2 separate regions of the Homo sapiens genome follow, and region 1 is linked to region 2. Evidence: fine-mapped expression QTL. Tissue or cell type: subcutaneous fat. Region 2 holds a variant in brackets; the other region holds the start of a gene. All regions are shown on one strand. Distances are from middle to middle.

The links. PIP is the estimated chance that this variant, and not a neighbour inherited with it, causes the effect.
Region 1: it holds the start of PROKR1, and the variant in region 2 is fine-mapped to the expression of PROKR1 in subcutaneous fat (FUSION, PIP 0.93).

The regions. Positions count from the first base shown.
Region 1 is chr2:68,637,349-68,648,355 of GRCh38, reverse strand. PROKR1 (prokineticin receptor 1) reads right to left here and starts at 4,777. Exons shown (of 3, transcript NM_138964.4): 1 at 4,508-4,777; 2 at 2,050-2,694. The coding sequence starts at 2,534.
Region 2 is chr2:68,722,391-68,733,397 of GRCh38, reverse strand. It overlaps a transcript of ARHGAP25 not described here. Among named protein-coding and RNA genes, the nearest start is that of ARHGAP25, 6.9 kb to the left of the region's middle. The variant G/AG (reference allele first, on the strand shown) is at 6,490.

The sequences.
Region 1 (11,007 bases), 85 kb after region 2:
CTCTGTTTGGTATGAAAGGAGGTTATAAGCTTGAAGAAGTTCAGTAGATGGAGACTGACTGATTGACATAGATATCACTCTTACATGTTCCAAATAACCCAATGCCCCTTAGTGTATCCTGGCTTCCTTTCCCCTTGAAGCTACTTCCTCCTACCATTGTTACTCCGTTCAAGTGGTAAAATGGATCTCATCCGGGGAGTAGGGTCCCACTCCACAGGAGGCACCCTACCCTGCTTTTAGTAGCTGAGCACATGTAGTTTCTCGCTAGTATGAAACTTCAGGAAATGACTCTGTATGCTTTGTCCTGTTCATGGGCTAAGAGAGAAGGTGGCGGCTTCTACTTTCAAAAAAGTTCAGAGACAAAGTCCCTGGAGCTCTTCCTTGGCAGCTTTGAAAGGAACCTACGAAGTAGATACTCTACTTGACTGCTCCCCTCCTGCTCCTTCAGTGGGTTCATGCGGGGTCCTTGTCCAGGTAAATGAAAAGCTGCAGGGCTCTTTGATTCAGTGGAGGGAATTTGGCCTCCAGGTAAATGAAAAGCTGCAGGGCTCTGTGATTCAGTGGAGGGAATTTGGCCAAGAAGAAGTAGCACTCTGCAAGGATCTACGGGGACAGACCAAGGGCTATGTAAGCTGCTAACTTCCTGATGTCCTTCCCTAGAGAAGGGAGGCAGAGTTTCCACCCCTCAGCGGTTTTATAGACAGAGGTTCCTTGGTAACCCCCTTTTTTCAGGTTATCCTTTTCGGTCATCCCACCCCTGGTCGCCCTGCCTACGGTCTCAGAAAACAAGCTCTCTTAGCTGTGCTCCTCCCTAGAACACTGTCCTGACTGTGAGGGCCAGGTCAAACCCCCTCAGATCCTTGAGGCCAGAGAACAGGGAGAGCATGTATGCCTCAGGCTCTCTGGGTTAAAGGAGAGAGACAGGCTGTTCAGATCCAAGTACACAGAAGCCTGATTTGATCCTCAGGATAATTGTCTCTAGACTGTAACCAGGTGCTTTGTAATGACAGTCCAGCTGTGGGCAGAGGAGCTAGCAAAGATTGTCCCCCGAGGAACAAAGACCAGCCTGGCCCATTAGCACAAGTTTACACTAAAGGAAGAGACTAAGTTGAAGAAAGATATGCAGAGGCTGCTCTTACTGATTTTATTTGCGATCACCAGAAACAGGTCTTCTGCACTATCTGTGCAAATGGACTAAAAGGTGCAAAGTGATTAATGCAACAACAAAAAGTAAATAAACATATGTTCCCTTTTTTTTCAAAACAAATCCCTCAATCTTTTTATTTTTATTTATTTATTTATTTTTTAGAGACAAGGTCTCCCTCTGTCACCCAGGCTGGAGCACAGTGGCATGAACATAGCTCACTGCAGCCTGGAATTCCTGGGCTCAAGTGATCCTCCTGCCTCAGCCTCTCAACTAGCTAGGACTACAGGCACACACCACCACGCTCAGCTAATTTTTTAATTTTTTCAAAAGGTGAGGTCTGGATATGTTGCCCATGCTGGTCTCGAACTCCTGGCCTCAAATGCTCCTCCTATCTCGGCCTCCCAAATTGCTGGGATTATAGGCTTGAACTGTTTACCACAGCCAGTCATAAATCCTTGAATCTTATTTAAAAACAGATGATGCTAGAAGGTCATATTTTAGTAGAGGAAGTCTTGATGAGATAGAAACCTCCTTCAAGATTTCCACATTGACTCAAGAGGTAACTGCCTGACGCTTAAAGTTTCCCTCGATATCTCCTCTTACCTGTCTACTCTAGACCTTGAAAGGTGTAATATCTAGGAAAACATCCATAGCAAGGGAGATCAAAAGCTTCCCATCACCCAACTCTAGAGGGCTCTGCTGTCTTCTGTCTGAACAAAGCTGGAAAAGGAGAACTCTTCTCACTGTCAGTCAATGGGCAAGCTTTTGAGTCCCCCATGCAACCACATCTAGGGGGAATAGAGACACCTCTCATCAATCTGCAACTGCAGTACAGGAGGGGGCAATTCCAATGCCCCTTCCTCCCTGACCGCCTTTGTTGTCCCCACTGCTGCTGCACTCACCTGTCAATGGCGATGGCCAGCAGGGCATTGGTGGAGACATAGAGAGAGACAGTGCGCAGGTAGTTGACAGAGGTGCACAGGACGTGGCCGTGCTCCCAGGAGAGCTGGCGCACCACATAGTAGTCCATCTCAAAGGGGCAGCAGACAATGGCCACCAGGAAGTCAGAGATGGCCAGGTTGGCGATGAGCAGGTTGGTGAGGTTGCGCAGTTTCTTGTAGCGGACCAGGGCAGCGATAAAGATGAAGTTTCCAATGCCGCAGACCAGCATGATGCCCACCAGGGCCATCCCAATGACAATCTTGGCAGCAAAGAACGTCCTGGAATTGGTCACATCCTCATCTTCATCCAAAGGCATATCATAGTCGCTGTAGCTGAAGTTGAATGGGAAGGAAGTGGCATGGGCTCCATGAGGGTTGAGCACAGAAAGGAAGCTGGTGGAAGTGTTGGTGGCATTGTCATCCATGAACCCCATGGTGGTCTCCATCTGGCCAGGTGGTGCTGTGAGCAACACTGCTCAGAATTCCCCAGGGCAATGTCTGCAAGGCTGATGTCACCCCTCTCTGCTATCAGCCAGCTCTCCCTTAATGAGTCAGAATGTCTCTGCCAGCATCTTTGGGGTATGGTATCTGAGCTCCATTCTAAACCTTTGAAAGACATACAAACAGTTGGCTATATGTTGCAGTAAAGCTGGCCAAATTCAAAACCACCCTGTAACCTAAGCAGACCTATTAGCTCCCTGCCCAGAGTGAACATAGGGTGATGGAGTGGAAATAAAGGAACCAATGAGAGAAAATGAATGAAAACCACATACTCAATTAGGGAAGGGTGGATTGCTATAGAGACAATCAAGCACTGGCTCAGTTTATTTCTGTTCCACTGAAGACTCAGAAGTGTTGCACCTTTTCTCAAGGACAAAAGTTGGGAGTGTGGGGAGGCTGAAGAGAAAGAAATTTCTTTAAATGCTATTTAAGAGGGAGGGCTTTCAGACAAGCCTGTCTGCTCTCCTTGCTCTTCTGGCAGAACATGGCTCTAAAATCACAGAGCCATAGAGCAGCCACCTTCCTCACTATTTGCTGGACTTCCTGTTCCCACATTAGAACCTGCTATGACCCTAGAAGCTGGGAACAGCATTTATGAAGGCCTGTCCCCAGACAGAGGCTGTAGGGTAAAGTCACAGCCTGTGACTAACCAAGTGATGAGAATGGGGACGCTAGAGCAAAATTTTTCCTTGGCTGGTTGAGTGTCCAGGGGTAAATAGCTTAAACACTCAGAGGTTCAACTTCTGCCAGGCAGGAGATCAATAATGTCTGCACAGCCTGGAGCTCCCTGGAGGAGAGTGTTACACCCTAGAACTGCAAGGAGTTACTACTGCGCTCTCAGGCCTCCTCTGTCAGCTGCAAGGAAGGGGAGCGAAATCCTGATACAGGGACTCCACCACACCACATAATGGGGCTGGGGTGAGGGGTCTAGGGGGGTGTCAGCTGCCCTGGTGGGGACAGGGAGGCAGCCAGAGTCCCCCTGTCCCCTGCTCTCTCCCTGCAGTCCCTCCCAAACCCTGAAGACATCAGACCAGGGAGTGGGACGTAGAAGGAGGGCTGAGGTCTGGAGAGCACCCTAAAACAAATGTCAGGAGAACAGAGGGAAGAATGCAAGCCAGAGTTTTCCTGGGAAAGGAAGATGAGGAAGATGCCCAGGACCCCACCTCCCCACCCCCAGGAAAGCCTGCTCTCCATATTCCTCCGAGGCAAAACATCTGGAGCCTGTCTTCTTGGGGCCAAGTTTAAAGTCCCTCTGCGCCCCAGTGAGGCTCAGCCCCATTGCTGCCTCTCTGTCCTAACTCCTTACCCTGATTTTTTCCTTCCTCCGAGCTCTCAATTCTGTCTGGCTCAGCCCTTGCCCTCTGCCCACTCAGGGAGGAGAGGCAGAACTCAGCTGAAAAGAAGGAGGGGGGCAGGCTTGGAACCCAGGCGGGACAAGCCCCACTCCTTGCAGGTCCCGTGGGTCGCAGAGGCATGCCACTCCTGGAGGGGTACCCCTACAAGCATGCTACCTGAAGGGTCAAAGTAGTGTTTAAAAGCAAAGAATACAGAAGCTTCGGGGGTGGAGAGGAGGGCGTCACGAGATTAAGGATGATTGTCCAGAGGTCTTTTCTCCTTTATTCTCACCGTTCAGAGGGGAACCCCAATCCTACCCCCACCTGGTGACCTCTCGATCGCTAGAAGCCTCTCTCACAAACCCCTGCTGGCAAGTCCCCCGCCTGCTCCCAACTTTCTCCCTGGAGCCTGGGCAGCTTCCCCTAAGGACAGAGGAGGGGAAGCCTGGCTCTCCTGAAGAAACTCACAGGAGTGAATCCCTGGCAAAGTCCCCTCTTCACTCAGAAGCCGCCGCACCCCACGGCCGCAGCCAGTGCAGCGCGGGGTCCCTGGAGCATCCTCCCCGGGAGGGCGCGCTCTGTACCTGCGGCATCGCGGAGCCCGGCAGGCAAGGTCCGGGTTTCTTATTCCGGGGCCGGATCAGGAGACGCTTCTTCCAGAAGCCGGCAGGCGAAGGGCAGGTCCCCGCTCCCTTCCTCCTCTGCTCGGGGCTCTTTCCCGGCTCTGGCGGGGGAGTTACCTTCGCGCCGCCGCTGCAGATCCCCCGACCCGGCCCGCGCCGGACTCCCTGTCCCCGCCTCCGGTGGCCGTGAGGCGCCGAGGTGCGGGCTCTTGGCGAGGCGTGTCGCCAGCTGGGCTGCAGAGGCCGGGATCGCCCTGGGCGGGAGCGTCCGGATCGCCCTGGGCGGGAGCGTCTGGAGCTCCCAGGCGGCAGCTCGCGACGAGGACGCGCGGGAGGGAGCCGGGCCAGGCGGGCTGCGCGTTGCCCGGCTCAGGCTTCGGAACGGCCGCCTGGGGCAGGAACGGGGTCGCTGGGGCTCCGGGCAGGGCTCTGCGTCAATCCCGCGCCGGGGGCACCCATGCAGGGCGGCTGTGCCCGCCTCGGGGCACGGGGCTCCTCGGCGGCTCACCTTGGCAGCCCAGCGCCGTCGGAGTGGACGGACACGGCCCCGCTCAGCCGCGAGCTTGCAAAGGACCGAGGAGCCTCCCCCGCTGCTCACACACCTCCTCAGGGGACACTCAGGGGCCGGCCCCAACCTGGTCCCCTGGGCCAGCCTGAACGGACACCAGGGCCATCTTTGTTGCCAGCTGCCCTACCTCTCCGTAAAAGAGGCTCAGAGAAGTGCTTTCTGGAGAGCAAACAAGGGGGCGGGGTAGCACACTGGAGAGAGGAAGGACCCCCGCCCAGGGATGTCTGCTTAGAAGGCTGGGACGGACAGCGCTGACTTACAGAGCACAGTCTACCTTTACAAGCCCATAGATTCCTCAAAACGTGAGGCATATAGTCCCGCAATCCCACTCCAAGGTATGTAACCCCAAACTATTGAAAGCAGGGACACACATACACTGATGTTCATGGCAGCACTATTCACAGTAGCCAAAAGACAGAAACAACCCAAATGTCCATCAGCTAAGTGGATTAACAAAATACATATAGTATATACATGCAATAGAATATTATCCAGCTGTAAAAAGAAATGATAACAAGTGTTGGTGAGAATGTGGAGAAACTGGAACCCTGTGCACTGTCGGTAGGAAAGTAAAATGGTGAAGCCACTGTAGAAAACAGTATAGGGTTTCCTCAAAAAGTTAAAAAATACAATTACCATATGATCGAGTGTTTCCACTTCCGGGTGTCTAACCCAAAAAATTAAAAGCAGGGTGATACGGTTTGGCTGTGTCCCCACCCAAATCTCAACTTGAATTGTATCTCCCAGAATTCCCACGTATTGTGGGAGGGACCCAGGGGAAGGTAATTGAATCATGGGAGCCTGTTTTTCCCATGCTATTCTCGTGATAGTGAATAAGCCTGACGAGATCCTGTGGGTTTATCAGGGGTTTCCACTTTTGCTTCTCCCTCAGTTTCCTCTTGATGCTACCACGTAAGGAATGCCTTTCACCTCCTGCCTTGATTCTGAGGCCTCCCCAGTCATGTGGAACTGTAAGTCCAATTAAACCTCCTTTTGTTCCCAGTTTCCGGTATGTCTTTATCAGCAGTGTGCAAGTGAACTAATACACAGGGTCTCAAAGGCATGTTTGTACATCCATGTTCATAGCAGCATTATTCACCATAGCGAAAACATGGAAACAATCCAAATGTCCATCAATGATGAAGGGACAAACAAAATGCTCCACATACACACATACACTCACATGGGAACTTCCAAAAGTTTGTGGGAAAATGGAATTAAAAGATAAAAATACATAAACTTTAGCTCTCAGCATAAGCTCCATCACGTTCAAGATGCTTTTGTAATGATGGCAGACATTTAGTCCATCTCTAAAGGACTAAGGATCCTGGGAATTTTTCTATTTTATTTATTTATTTTTATTTTTTTGTTAAAACAGGGTCTGGCTAGGTTGCTCAGGCTGGTCTCAAACTCCTGGCCTCAAGCAATCCTCTCACCTCAGCCTCCCAAAATGCTGGGATTACAAGCATGAGCCACCAGGCCTGGCATGGGTCCTGGGAACTTAACCATGTCAATGAAGCCCTTTTTTTTTACATTATTAACGTAAGAAAAATAGCTGCTCCTTAAAGACTTTTTAAGATTAGGAAATGAAGTCAGAAAGAGCCAAATCAGGATGGTAAGAAGGATGGCTAATAATTGCCCTTGTTCAATTAGAGGAATGAGCAGTAGTATTGTCATGGTGGAGAAGGACTCTTTGGTGGAGCTTTTTCAGGCATTTTTTCTGCTAAAGCTTTGGCTAATTTCTCAAAATACCCTCATAATAAGCAGATATTTCATTCTTTGGCCCTCTACAGAAAATCACATGCAAAATACTGTGAGCATCCCCCAAAAACTATTGCTATGACCTTTGCTCTTGATTAGTTTGCTTTTGCTTTGTCTGAACCACTTCCACCTCTTGGTAGCCATTGCTTTGATTGTGCTTTGTCTTCTGGATCACACTTGTAAAGCCTGTTTTTTCTGTTATTACAGTTCTTCAAAGAAATCTTTCATGATCTTGATCCCGCTTGTTTCGTATTTCCATTGAAAGCTCTATTCTTGTCTACAGCTGATCTGGTCACAACAATTTTGGCACCCATCAAGTGGAAAGTGTGCTCAACTTTAATCTGCCAGTCAGAAATGAGTAAGTTCAACCAACTGAGGTGTCTGTGGTGTTGGTTATGTTTATGCTGTTAATCATCAGTCCTCTTCAATTAGGGCATGAATAAGGTTAATTTTTTTCTCACAAATTATGTGGATGGTCTGCTGCTGCAGACTTCATCTTCAACATCCTCTCGTCCCTTCCTGAAATGAGTATCCACTTGTAAACCGCTGATATCTTTGGGTCATTGCCCACAAAAAGCTCTTCGTAAAGTATCAGTGATTTCACCATTCTTCCACCCAAGCTTCACCATAAATTTCATGTTTGCCGTTGCTTCAATTTTTCAGAATTCATGTTCCTCTGAGAGGGGCTCTTTTCAAACTGATATCTTATCCTTCTTAGTGACTCAAACTAGATCCTGTTCAGACATGTTGTAACAAATGAGTACGAGTTTATTTGGGTGCAAACAAAAATTGAAATCCATGCTTACTTTTTTCATAATATGCATGCTCCCCAAATTTTTGAAGCCCCTTCATGTGTATGTGTGTGCGTATATACACAGAATGCAATATTATTCAGCCTTCAAATGGAATGAAATTCTGACACATGCTACAACACGGATATACCTTGAAGACATTGTGCTAAGTGAAATAAGCCAGTCACAAAAGACAAATACTATATGATTCCACTTACATGAGGTAGCTAGAGTAGTCAAATTCATAGAGACAAAAAGTAGGATGATGGTTGCCTAGGTCTTGGGGAAGAAGGAATGGGGAGCTATTGTTTAATTGGTACAAAGTTTCAGTTTTGCAAAATGAAAATAATTATGAAGATGGAGAGTGGTAATGGTTGCACAACAATCTGAATGTACTTAATACCACTGAACTGTATATGTAAAAACTGTTACAATGGTAAATATTTTTTTTCACTTTACCACAATGAGAAAATGGGGAAAAAAGGAATGGTGTACTGACACATGCTACAACATGGGTGAATCTTGAAAACATGATGCTAAATTAAATAAGCCTATCATAAAAAACAAATATTGAATGATTCCACATATATAAGATACCTAAAATAGGCAAATTCATAAAGTCAGAAGGTAGAATGATTGTTACCAAGGGATGAGGGGGAGGGGGAATAGGAGATTATTATCTGATGGGTTCAGAGTTTCCGTTTGGGATGATGAAAAAGTTCTGGCAATGGATAGTGGTGATGGTTGCACAACATTGTCAATGCATTAATGTCACTGAATTGTAACTTAAACAGTTAACATGGTGAATTTTATGTTATGTGTATTTTACATATGCAGCCATGCATCACTTAGCAATGAGGATATGTTCTGAGAAATGCATCATTAGGCAATTTCATTGTGTGACTATCATAGAGTGTACTTAACACAAACCTAGATGGTATAACCTACTATACACCTAGTCTGTATGGTATAGCCTAGTGCTCCTAGGCTACAAATTGGAACAGTATGCTACTATACTGAATACTATAGGCAATGGTAATATAATGGTAAACATATCTAAACATAGAAAAGGTACAGTAAAAATATGGTATTATAATCTTATGGCACCACCATCATATATGTGGTTCATCTTTGATCAAAACGTCATTATGTAGCCCATGACTGAATGTATCTCCTATAGCATAGCTCGGACTTCCTTAGCAAGGCATCCACAAAGGCCTATACGATGTTGGCCTCCAGTTTTCTGTAGTGGAAAGAGAGTGCTGCCTGGGATCTGGATCTTTAGTACATTTTGCCACTATCAAAATATACTAAAGGTACAAAATGTATATGACTTTAGGCAAGTCATATACCTTCTCTGGGGTTCTCTTTCCTCATTTACAAAATGAATGAGTTGAGCTTGCACTAGGAAATCACTGCCAAGTTCCAATACTTCATGCAGTTTCTTCCCCTGGCCCATATACCTCCCTGGACACTTTCTCCTGTCATTTGCAAAAATGTCACAGCTGTTACACATCTCTGAGGCTCATGTCACCTGGAAGGTGGAAGAGGACAGTGGGAAAGAGCATAAGATAAGGAGTACCGCCTCCTTTCTACCTAGCTCTGCACATGTGAACGGTGTCACCTTGGGCAGTGTGGTAACCAAAACCTAGCCTTTCTCTTTTGAAATTAGGAATTACAATAGCTTCTACTTCATAAGGTTGTGGTGAGGATTAAATAAAATATGGTGGGTTAAATGCTTAGCACAATGCCTGGCACCTAGCAGGCACCTGAGAAATGCCAGCTATTACTATTCCTTGGTGATTCTTTCTATATCTGGCCTCGTATGGGGTCGTAACTAATCTTGAGACTTTGCTCACATGTCATTTCTTCCAGGAGGCACTCCTTAATTCCTCCAATGGTTTTCATGTCTTCCTTACGTCTTGTTGGTTCTCTTTAAATGCACTTTTGTGCACCAATTTGCTTTCCATCTTGCACTCTTTCTGAGAAGGAGCTATGTCTCATTCATTTTTGCATCCTATTCTGCAATGTTTTTCAGACTTGCCTGATTATATGAATTATCTGGAGTGGTAGTTGAACCTACTGATTCTTAAGTCCCACTTCAAACCAAGGGAAGGGGCCTAGAAATCTAAATGTTTAAGCAGCACCCCAAGTGATTTTCTTTCTTTAGAGTCAGGGTCTCACTCTGTCACCCAGGTTGGAGTGCAGTGGCACAATCATAGCTCACTGCAGCCTCAACCTCCTGGGCTCAAGCCATCCTCCCACCACAGCCTTTCAGGGTAGCTATGACTGCAGGTGCATGCCATTATGCCCAGCTAAGTTTTTCAGGTTTTTTTGTAGAGATGTGGCCTCATTATGTTGCTCAGGCTGGTCTCGAACTCCTGGCTTTAAGCAACCCTCCCACCTTGGCCTCCCAAAGTGCTGGGATTACAGGTGTGAGCCACTGCACCCAGCTCCAGGCAATTATTATTATCAAGTGAGTTTGAGAATCTAAGAACTTACAACAGAGCTAGGCACAAGATACAAAACGTTCATTTGTCATTCCATGTAGCATATGTCTTCCTGACTGCATTTGTCTCTACTCAAAAATAAAAAACAATACTGGTTTGATATGAATGATTGTGATAAAATTCATAGCCTCTAGAATTGATGAGGCATCACGGAATGCATTCACTATCTAATACTGCATAACAAATCATCCCAAAACATAGCAACTTAAAACAAATATATTATCTCATAGATTCTGAGGGTTAAGAATCTGGGAGTGGCTGAGTTGGGTGATCCCAACCTCTAGGTCTGTCATGATATTGGAGTCAAGCTATCAGCCAGGGCTGCAGTCTCATCTGAGTGTTCAAGTGAGGGAGGATGCACCTCAAAGCTTACTTATGTGGTTGTTGCCAGGCCTCAGTGTTTTACTGGCTATTGCTGGAGACTTTAGTTCCTTACCATGTGGGCATAGCTCTAGGTTTCCTGGGTGACTTCACAATGCGGCAGTGAAACTCTCCTACGTGTGCTATATGCTGTTCATCACAAAACAAACCCTGGTACAATGTGGAAAGGGAGCCACACAGGTGTGTGAATGCCAAGAGGTGGAACCACTGGAGGCTAACATGGAGGTCATCTTGGAGGCTGACTACCACACAGAACTTAGAATTTTCCTTTTCCACTTCAAAGATCTGGCAGGAAATGGTAGTTGAGGCTAACAATGAATTTAGCCACAATGAAGATACGTTTGACCTTCAGTGTAGGGAGGTGGTGGATAACTTCTCGGGACAGAGTCAGGAAGGGCATAACCGGGGTGATTTATTGGCCTAGCACCTCCTTAGGGGAAGTGGAATAAT
Region 2 (11,007 bases):
ATCTCTCCTCTTATTCTCTCCCGAATCCCTTGGTTGATGTTTTTGCCCCTATGACTCCACAAAATATATTCTCATCAAGGATACCTACGACTTCCCTGTCACTAAACTCACAGGTCAGGGCTTCATCTTCATCTCACGGGCCCATCAGCAGTGTCGGACACATTTGATAGCTCTCTCCAACTCTGAGCCCTCTGTCCATGGGGCTCCCACGGCCCATGGTTGGCCTGGCTGTCTGCCTGCCTTTCTGGCTTTTCCGTGTCTGTTTTCTTGCTGATTCCTTCTCATCTCTCTGACCTCTAAATATTGAAGGAAACCAAGACTCGACTGGACTCTTTTTCCATCCACACTCACACCTTGGTGAGCTCATCTGTCTCAAGGCTTTAAATGTCACATATTTGCAGATGATTCCAATGTGTATTTCCAGCCCAGACCCCCTGAACTCCAAATCACATGGATCTCTGCTTAGATCTATAGTAGCCATCTCAAACTAAATGTATCCAAACTGTATATCCAGAGAACGAGGCTGAAGGAACAGTGGTGACCTGGTGTATACTCCTGTCTTCAGGAATGAAAGGAGCACAAGAGAGAAGAACCTTGCAAGCGCATTTAACGCCTCTGCGCACACCCTGTCTGCTCACATTCCATTGGCCAACACAGGTCACATGGCCAAGCTCAAAGTCAGTGAGGCCGGAAGTACACCCAGTCCTCAGCAGCAGTGGGGAGGGAGAAGGGCCGGAGGGGTGGAAGAAGGGCCGGAGTGTTTGCTGATCAAGACTCCAATCCACCACACTCACCCAGTCTACCCAGCTACCCTCCAGCCTCCCCAGGGAGCTGGATTCCGCTGAACTTGACTCAGCTACTTGGAGACATTGCACTACTGCCTGCCTGACCCAAACACCACTGCTCTTTTTCGTATCCCAACTTAATTAAGCGGGTGTGAGAGAGGTAGCTGTCTGGCCCGGCCCAGCAGCATCTCCACGGGGGAATTCGACACCATCTAAAATTTCAGTCCTGGGACCTTTAAACTGAGGAATGTTGAAAATATTTTGAAGGTGTCATTAAGAAACACGCAGGGAACTTCCTTTACTTTTCAGGGTAGGTTCCTGTCAGTCTTGGAAAAACTCGTGACCCATGGGGGAAGTTAGTTGTGCAGATGCGGAAAGGCAATCAGATGGAAAGCACACTCCCCACAAGGGCCCAACACAGCAGCCTTCCCCCACCACAGAGCTCTCTCTCGGTCAGTCAACTGGGTACTGCGCTCCCTCTCTCTGATCTTCATAAAATGAAGAGCCAAATGCCTTGCCTGGTCCCAAAGTTTGAATTAGCATCTGCAGTAGCGCAAGCAAACATTGTTCCATCTGTTGGCTTGTTGAATGATAAGCGGATTTATTAAGGACCAAATTTTTGCTGGACATTGGAAGAACGTTCGTGAACAAGCAGACGTGTTTTCTGCTTCCCCACCTCACCGCCCTGACACCGGCTGTTGTCTCTTACAGTCTGTTGGGGGAGAAGAACAATTAAGTGAACGATTAAATACAGTGTGAGAGAGCTATGTTGGGGAAAGTGTAGGGAGCTAGGGGGGGTGTATATGCGAGGGGCCTAACTGGACTTGGGGAGTGAAGGAAGGGTTCCTGGAAGAAGTGTCTTTTAAAGTAAGGCTTGACAAATGAGTTAGGGAGGCAAGGGGGTTGGAAAAAGGATTCCAGACAAAACCAACAATATGAATGAGGCACGGAGAGAAGAAAGTTCTTCAGGTCGCTCCTAAGAAGGATGAAAGGGGTGGGGCTGAGGAGAAACGAAGCTGGAGAGATAGTCAGGGCTGAGCAGGGCTGGATCACACAGGGCAGGTAAACCTTGACAAAGAGTTCTGACTGTATCCTGGGGAAAACGGAGGTCACTAGGGAGTTTTCAACAGGATAGGGGTGAGGAGGCTGTGGCAGATATCTAAGAGAGAGGAAGAGTGAGGGAGAGAGGTCGGCAGCATGGGCATGGAAAGAAGGGAAAACAACACAGGAGTCATGTGAGTGACAGAATTGATAGCCCCAGGAGAATTATTACAGCAGAAAAAAGAGGCACCCAAGATCCCAGCTCGTCACTGGAAGGGTGTAGTTCCAATCACAGAGATGGGGCACGCACAAAAACAGTGAGGATTGGTAATGAGGAACAAGGAGAAAACGGTGGGCTTAGTTTGGGGCATGTTGATTTAGGGACCCAAGGGGCACTTGAGTGCAGATCTTCTGCACTCAAGGCTCATGTGAGCCTAGAGCTCAAACAGACTCATTCATTCATTCACTCGTTTACTCCATAAACATTTGTACAGGCCTGCGTTGGATGCTGATTAAACAAGAAGGATGATTAAGAACCCAGCCTAATCCTCCAATGAGTCATGAGAGAGAAGTGTAAACTTGCCGTGCAAGATACAAAAATAGTGCATGCACAGGGTAAAGTGGGAGCAGGAAATGGTTCCCTCTGCTTGGGTGGCATCCCAGGAAAGGCGACCCATGAGACAATAGTCAGGAAGCCAGGTGGGGGAGTGAGAGGAGAACGCTCCAGGCAAATGAAATGGCAGATCGCTGTGAAAACACAAATACGGCCCCCATTTAGGGAAGTATCAGAAATGATGTATGGCCCCCAAAGATGCCCCATACCCACTAGTTGAAGTTGCAGGAGCTGCTGGGGCCAGGGTCTGATGCACTTGCTGAAGGGTTGGACTCTAGCCTGAGGAGAACTTTTTTTTTTTTTTTTTCTGAGACAGGGTCTCACTCTGTCAACCAGGCTGGAGTGCAGTGACACAATCATGGCTCACTGCAGCCTCAACCTCCTGGGCTTAAGCAATCCTCACGCCTTGGCCTATGGAGCAGGTGGGACTGCAAGCTTTCACTACCATGCCCGGCTAATTTTTTAAAAACTCGTTCTGTAGAGATGGGGGTCTCACTATGTTGCCCAGGCTGGTCTCAAGCTCCTGGGTTCAAGTGATCCTTCTGCCTTGGCCTCCAAAGTGCTGAGATTACAGACATAAGCCACTGTGTCCAGCCTGGAGAACTCTTAAAACATCTTTCGTTATTATTTTTACCATTACAGAAGTCCGTGCATAATCACCATACAAGTGTTTTAAAAGCAAAAAGAAAATAAAAATCATTGTTACCACTTAATGTGTAATAAGAACTTTTCCCATTCTTGGTTTCCTACTTCTCCCTCACCTTCTACTCATGTGTACATGTAATATATGTATGTATGCATGTATTGTAAATTTTTTAAATGGTGCATATGCTGTCTTATAAACCGTTATCTTCCTTTAACAAAAAAAAGTCATGAAAAAGTATCTGTCATTAAGCATTTTTCCAAAACATCATCAGTGGCCTCATGATTTTTAATTATATGATGAGAGCAAAATTAATTTAACAAATCCCTGTGTCATTGAGCATTGGAGATATGCATAAATTTTCATAATATTCTTATAGCTAAATATCTGGATAAATCTAGTCCTTTTCCCCCCTCAGGGGGAATTCTTAGAGATAGAAATGCTGGGAAAGTGAATAAGAATATACTTATACTAAGGTTTGCTATGTGCTCTCAAATTGCTAAATCACTGAATTGTACACTTTGATGGGTGAATTGCATGGTATGTGAATTATGTATCAATAAAGCTCATAAAAAAACAAGCAGTCAGGTGAAGAACAAACATGAAAAAGTTCTACGGTTTATGTTTCCATTAACAATATATGTAGGGCCCAGTTCCCTCAGAGCCTCACTAACAGTTGGCATTATCATTGCTTTTATTATAAATCATTTTCAGTTGAATAAGCAAATACTTTTTTTATTAAATAGTGGAACTAAAGTTATTTTTTAATGTGTTTATTGGGCATTTGTAAGGGTTGGATGTGTCTAGGTGTCGATGTGTCTGAGTGATTTTGCAAGGAATCAGTGCAGGGGGAGTTTCTTATATCTTTATTTCTGATTTGCAGCCCACTGGCTCTAGGATCTTCTTCAGGAGCATCAGTTATCTGCATGTTAGCTCTCCACTCTGTCACTTCCTTGTCTTTCATTTTGTCATCTCTGTTACTGTTATCTGCATTTGAAGACAGTTTCTCATGTTTGTTCTTCACCTGACTGCTTGTTTTTTATGAGCTGTATTGATACATAATTCACATACCATGCAATTCACCCATCAAAGTGTACAATTCAGTGATCTAGTACATTCAGAGTTGTGCAACCATTGCCACAATCAACTGTAGAACACTTTCATCTTCCACAAAAGAAACTCCATACCCATTAGCAGACCCTCCTCATTTTCCCCAGCACTAGGCAACCACTTTATGTCTCTATAGATTTGTGTATGGACAAAGGTGTCTGTTCTGGACATTTCACATAATGAAGTCATATACTGTAATATGTGGTCTTTTGTGACCGGCTTCTTTCCCTTTGCATGTTTTGAAGTTTCATTCATATTGCAGCATGTATCAGAACTTTATTTCTTTTCATGGCCAAATAATATTCCATTGTGTGGATAGATCAAATTTTGTTTATCTGTTCATTTAGTGGATGGACATTTGGATTGTTTCCAGGTTTTGGCTATTATGAAAAATGATGCTATGAACATTTGTGCACAAGTTTTTTAAATTTTATTTATTTATTTATTTACTTATGTTTACTTATATTACTTATAAAGATTGGAGTCTCACTATGTTGCCCAGGCTGGTCTCAAACTTCTGGGCTCAAGTGATTCTCCTGCCTCAGCCTCTCAAAGTGCTGGAATTACAGGTGTGAGCCACCATGCCTGGCCTTGTGCACAAGTTTTATAAACTATTATCTTCCCCTGACAAAATGGCATTATCATTGCTTTTATTAAAAATTATTTTCAATTGAATAAGCAAGTTTTTTTTTTATTAAAAAATCATCTCTCTTGGGTATGGGCATAGCAGTGGAATTTCTGGGTTATATGGTGACTTTATGTTTAAATTTTTGAGGAACCACCAAAATGTTTTACAAAGTAGCTGCACCATTTTACATTTCCACCAGAAATGTATGAGGGTTTCATTTTTTTCCACGTATTCCCCAACACTTGTTATCATCAGTCTTTTTTTATTTTAGCCATTCTAGTGGATGGTTAGGATGAAATGTTATTATCTCATTGGGGTTTTGATTTGCATTTCCCTGATGACTAATGATGTTAAGCATCTTTTCATTTGCTTATTGGCTGGTTTGGTTTTCCAAAGCAGAATTCCTGCTTCGTGAAACATCCGATGATGTAGTCCCACTGAACCTGCATTTCCTCAAGACCACATCCAGCTAAAACTCAAGCCTTCAACTTTGACTGAAACTTTCCTACTTTTGCCTTATTTCCATTTAATCTTTCTGATGTACATTGTACTCAGTATCATTTCAAATTTCCAGCAGACTTTTTTCTATGTACTTCAGCTGCATTTCCCCTACCCCTTGCCTAGTTCTCTAGAACTTTTAAGTGATGCTGTGCATGAAAAGGCAGTCACATCTTTCTAGGAGTGATTAGATCTGCTGAAGAGAGTCACTTGTCACCAGATCTCTCCCTCTCCTTCTCCATCGAGCTCTCCAGGTTGTGGTTGTCACCGTCATCCCTCATTACCATGATGGTTGTAGCTGTTGTTTTCTGCAGGGATTTAAAACAATGCCTGGGCAGGGGAATGGAGCAATCCTATTCCAGCTGCCTCACGGATGAGCATCAGATAAATGGATGGAGGGAGAGGCAGAAATCAGTTTTCTGAACTTGACATAGTTTGGGTCAGAGTGAAGAACAGACTCCAGGAGAGTCAGAAGGTGAGGGTCTACCTTTGTCAGGAGGTCCCTGGCCATGGCACAAAGCCGGGGGAGGTTTCTCTGAACACAGGCCTTTGTGAAGTAGGGTGATGCCCTGTTAATCAGCAGATGGAAGCTCCGCAGAGGCAGACCCTCTGAGGCAGATCAAGTGCCCTAAATTGGCACAAACCTTTACATTCCTGGGAGACTGTGCCAGGTGCTATTGTGGTCACACTTGTATTGATATTTTCCTTCTAATAGATTTAAGAAGAAAAGCATAATACTTTTTGTACCCACATCTTAACCAAAAGTGAGGGGAAAAAAAGATGGCCTGAAGTCAAGCAGATTGGGAGGAAACACATTTCTTTGTGGCCGTGAGTCAGCCAGTTTCACTCGCTTGTATTTCCCACCTGGCTCGTGCAGGCATTTGAACGTGGGCCCCCGTGTTGCAGACGCACTCAACCAGTAACCACGCTTTTAGCAAATACTAAGTGCATAGGCCGGATGGCTGTATCTTGTGGTCTTGACTGACAGATGCCTCAGCATGTACGTCCTGGAATATAGCATTTGGAGACACCAAACGTAAAGATCTTTTTTATTTGGATTTTAATAGTCTATATCTTTTTAAAAGCTGTATTTACAAGGCACAAAATTAAGGTTTTATTCCCATTCCCTTGGGTATATGGAAAAAAAACAGAAAGGAAAAGAAAAAAAAAA[G/AG]ATTTGTGCAATAGGACTATGCCTTTTTGCAAGCTCAGCAGAGGCAGACCTGGCAGAGGAAGAGATTTCTGGGCTCTGAACACTCTGTGTGAGCCCAGTGGATGGGGTGCAGGCTCCTGGGCTCAGACCACAGAGGCTTGTTCCTCCCAGCCCTGAGCAGTCAGTTGGAGGCACCTCCTCTCGTTACTGATGTCACCTTTGCCAAGGTCCCTGGCATTGGATCTGATGTCTGGCTACAGTTTGATAGTCTATTGATCTTTATTTTTTCTAAGTGTCCCATAGCCAAAAAAAATTGTCCCATAGCCAAAAAATTTATATCTGGAGGCCTGAAGGCCAAGACGGGCATTATTACTGCTGGTGCTCTACCTGGAAGAAGGCTGCTCTGTGAATGATGGGCTCAGGAAGGGAAATGTCTATTTATATGGGAAATTCGTTCCCAGGGGATTATAAAAGAATCTCATGTTTTCCAACAGGAAGGAGCACACTGAGCAAATCAGGAGCAAATGTCCCTCACGTAACACCTCCTTTTGGCCATTGTTCTGTATTACGTTACATTAATTTGAACCACGTGAAGCTGCCAATATTTGACAGCTTTTGACTGGCAAGAACAATCTCATATATTTCCACATAATAGACCCACTCTGCCTCCTGCCACTCATTCATTCAACAAATATAAAGGAACCGTTCACCTATTAGGGATCAGGCAGTGCTCTAGGTGCTGAGAACACAGCCAACAAGAAGACAGATGAAAACGCCTGCTTTTGTGGAGCTTGTTCTAATGAGGAAAGAGACAAGAAAATAAATAAGTGAAATAAATGTAACGTGTTAGATGGTGGTAAGGGCTGTGGAGAAAAAGAAAAAGTGCTACGGGAAGGGGTGAAAGAAATGTCAGATTGAGGGGAGAGGGGAGGGAGATTGCATTTTTAAATAGTTGGACAGCGAAGGTGACATTTCACAGAATAGGTGACATTTGAGTAAAGACCTAAGCCAGGTTGAGAATGAGCCAGGTAAACCTATGTGGGAGAACCTTCCAGCAGATGGAGGTGTGAGTGCAAGAGCTCTGCCAGAGGTGAGAGGAGGCCTAGCACTTCAAGAGACCCCAAGGAGGTCTTGTGTTCACAGCAAAAGGAGGAAGGGGAAGATAACAAGAGATGGGTCAACAAGGTAATAGGGGACGAATTGTATGGGGCTTCATAGGACTTTGCTGGAACTTTGGCTTTTGCTTAGAGTGAGGTTTACAGCAGAGGAGTGCCTTGATTTGATGTATACTTTTAAATAATCAGGCTGGGCATGGTGGCTCATGCCTGTAATCCCAGCACTTTGGGAGGCTGAGGAGGATGACTTGAGCCCAGGAATTCTAAACAGCTTGGTCAACACAGTTGAGGCCCCATCTCTAAAAGAAAAGAAAAGAAAAAAATTGGCCAGGTAGGATGGCATACACCTGTAATCGCCGCTACTCAGGAGGCTGAGATGGGGGGAATGTGTGAGCCCAAGAGTTTGAGGCTACAGTGAGCCACAATCACATCACTGTACTCCAGCCTGGGTGTCAGAGAGAGACTCTGTTTCAATAATTATTATTATTATTATAATAAAATAATAAAAGATCGCTGTGGCCTCGCATTGAGAACAGACTGAAAGGTGGTAGGGCAAGGGTAAAAGCGGAGACCTTAGAGCTGACTGCAATGGTCTAGGTGAGTGAGACAGCAGGTCTGCACCAGCGTGGCCTGCTCAGCTCACTGCGCATGATTGTGCAGGTGATGCAGGGAGCAAGGCACCAGCCTCATGGATAGGTGGGGCTGGAGTCTAGTCAGGGCACTGAGCATCAGCCCAGAGTCTAACTGTGGGGCTTCAGCCATCCAAGGAAGGAGTATCGTTCTCTACTCAAAGGCTCTGCCACCCATTCAGTCATGGGGGTGATGTTTTTCTAAATTGTAGAAAAGCAACACAATATAGACCAGCAAAGGCTCTGCTGGTAGCCAGAAGGTGATGAGAAGTGGCCAATACTTCATATATATCCTGGATCAATCTTATCTGCTCTCCCAACGGGTTGGATGACAGGCGTGACAGAATGAGAGAAGTCAAGGGAAAAATGACAAGGTCGAGCACGGCCTGAGAAAATGGAAAGGAGAAGGTCCCGTTTGCTGAGATGGGAAAGACAGGGAAGGAGCAGGCTGGACAGAGGCTGGAGATAGGCCTGCATTAGGCCAAAGATGCCCAGTAAACATCTCCAAATGGAGATCCTACTGCCACCCAGTAGGCAGCTGGGTCTGAGTCTGGTGTTTAGGGCAGAGGTCCATTGGAGCATAGTTAAATAATGTCAAAGGCTTCTTTCCTCAACCTTAAATATTTTTTGTCACTCAGAGTGGCTCAGGAAGAACATCAGCAAATACAATTGGTAATGGTCTGAGGGTCAGCAGGTGGCTATAGTCCCATCCTCTTAGCATCCCACAGAGGTCATGCACTGTGGAGCTTCCCCAGTGAGGCAGCTGTCTGCTGTTGCAGAGGGGCTAGTATGAGAGAGGTTTTGCTCAGGATAAATAAACATTATAGATTTAGGTGTCAGGTAGTCTAAGCTTAGAGACCAGATGTTTAGAGAGTTGGGGGAAAATGTCAGCTCCTTAACACCTGGAGAGTTCAGGGCCAGTCCAGTGTGAAGTGCAGAGAGTTTGGGGCCCAGTCCAGGAGAGACTGAGGCTTTCTCCCTGGAAGAAAGAAGCCACTCTTCCAGGCTGTCCAGAGAGCTCCAGAGGTCACTCATCTGACGGTCCTTCTCAGCTGCATGGTTCTGCTCTCTGGCCCCAGTGGCTCATCAATGGAGGCCATTGTCCTGTCATACTCAGACCTCAAAGAAGAGAGAGATTTGACAAAAATTAGCTGGGCGTGGTGGCACACCTGTAGTCCCAGCTACTCAGGTAGCCGAGGTGGGAGAATCACTTGAGCCCGAAGGTCCAGGCTGCAGTGAGCTGAGATGGTGCCACTGCACCCCAGCAAGGCAACCGAGTGAGAGCCTGCCCCACCGAGAGAGAAAGAGAGAGAGAGAGAGATTTACTCCCACATCACCCATTTCCCAGTATCAGATGTGTCTACACCTGAACAATTAGGGTCTCTCCTCCTCCTTCCAAAATGAAATAAACCACCCTGAAGGGCCTGGTTGACCCCTTCTGCAGGCCTAGTCAGGCATCATTCATTCCACGTTGGTATACTCTGCTAGAGAAAACACCAGGGCCATCACTTCCACAGGCTGGGACTAGGGATAGAAGAGTTAGCAGGTGCTCACAGTCCCCATCCTCTCAGCTAGCAGTGTGGGACTGTGCCGCACAGAAAAGACAGCTTCTGAGAAAAGCATTTGGAATGAAGAAGCCCAAGAAGCCTCTGGATGCAGGAGCCATAATATTATACAACAGACCATAGAGGCCTGCAGGACTCAGCACAGTCATGAAACAGCCACCAAGGACTGGGAAGCCCAACAGGGAATCTATGTGACACAGAGATGGACTGCTTACCAGCTAAGCGGCATGTGGTTTGAGTGAGCTGGGCTGCATCCCACCAGGATGTGGCATGGCCCACAACTAGAAGGCTAACTTTATAGGCTCCCTGCCCCCGATTAGGGAACTTCACTTTCTTGAAAACATTCTCAAGGCATGAAGTTGTCTGTCTCTTCCAAGGGAATGATCACAGACTACTATGATCATGGATAACTCCCTTTGTCATGTGCTGGATTCCCTGACAATCCCACAGCAAGAACTTCATTTATGACCACTGCCTCCCATGACCACACCCAGCATCGTGGAATTTGCTGGATATTCTACACTCCTATGAACCATTACCGGTGCATCTAAATGAGCACTGGAATGGCCGGTTCAAGAAGCAAAACAGAGGCGCTGTCACCCTTGCTTCATAAAAAAAGAGAGCAGAGAGGTGATGGGAGCCCTCTGCTGGAGCACAGGCCCACGTGTTTCCAGCTGAACTCCAGACCTAGCGCACCTCTCCCGTTTGGAGAGTGGGGAGCCTATGTGGCTGTTGACCTTGGCCTGAGGGTGTCTGCACCAAGTGACACTCGTATTTGCCTCAAGCACTTTGCATGGTGCTTTGCAAAGCTGTCCTTGAGGGCTCATGTGCCCAGCTTGATGGGGAAAAATTGGGAGGTTCAGGAGCCTGAGCTAGGGTGAGACATGGGCCCTCGAGCCAGAGTGGGTTCAAATCCTACCTCTTCAGCTCACTGCCTGGGTGACCCTGGGCATGTTGCTTAACCTCTTTAAGCTTTACTTCTTATATATAAAAAGCACTCAATATAGTGTCTGGAATGTAGCAAATTCTTTTTTTTTTTTTTTCAGACAGGGTCTCGCTCTGTCATCCAAGCTGGAGTGCAGTGGTGCAATCTCTGCTTACTGCAGCCTCCGCCTCCCTGGTTCAAGCGATTCTCCTGCCTCAGCCTCCCGAATAGCTGGGATTACAGGTATGTGCCACCATGCCTGGCTGATTTTTGCATTTTTAGTAGAGTCAGGGTTTTAACATGTT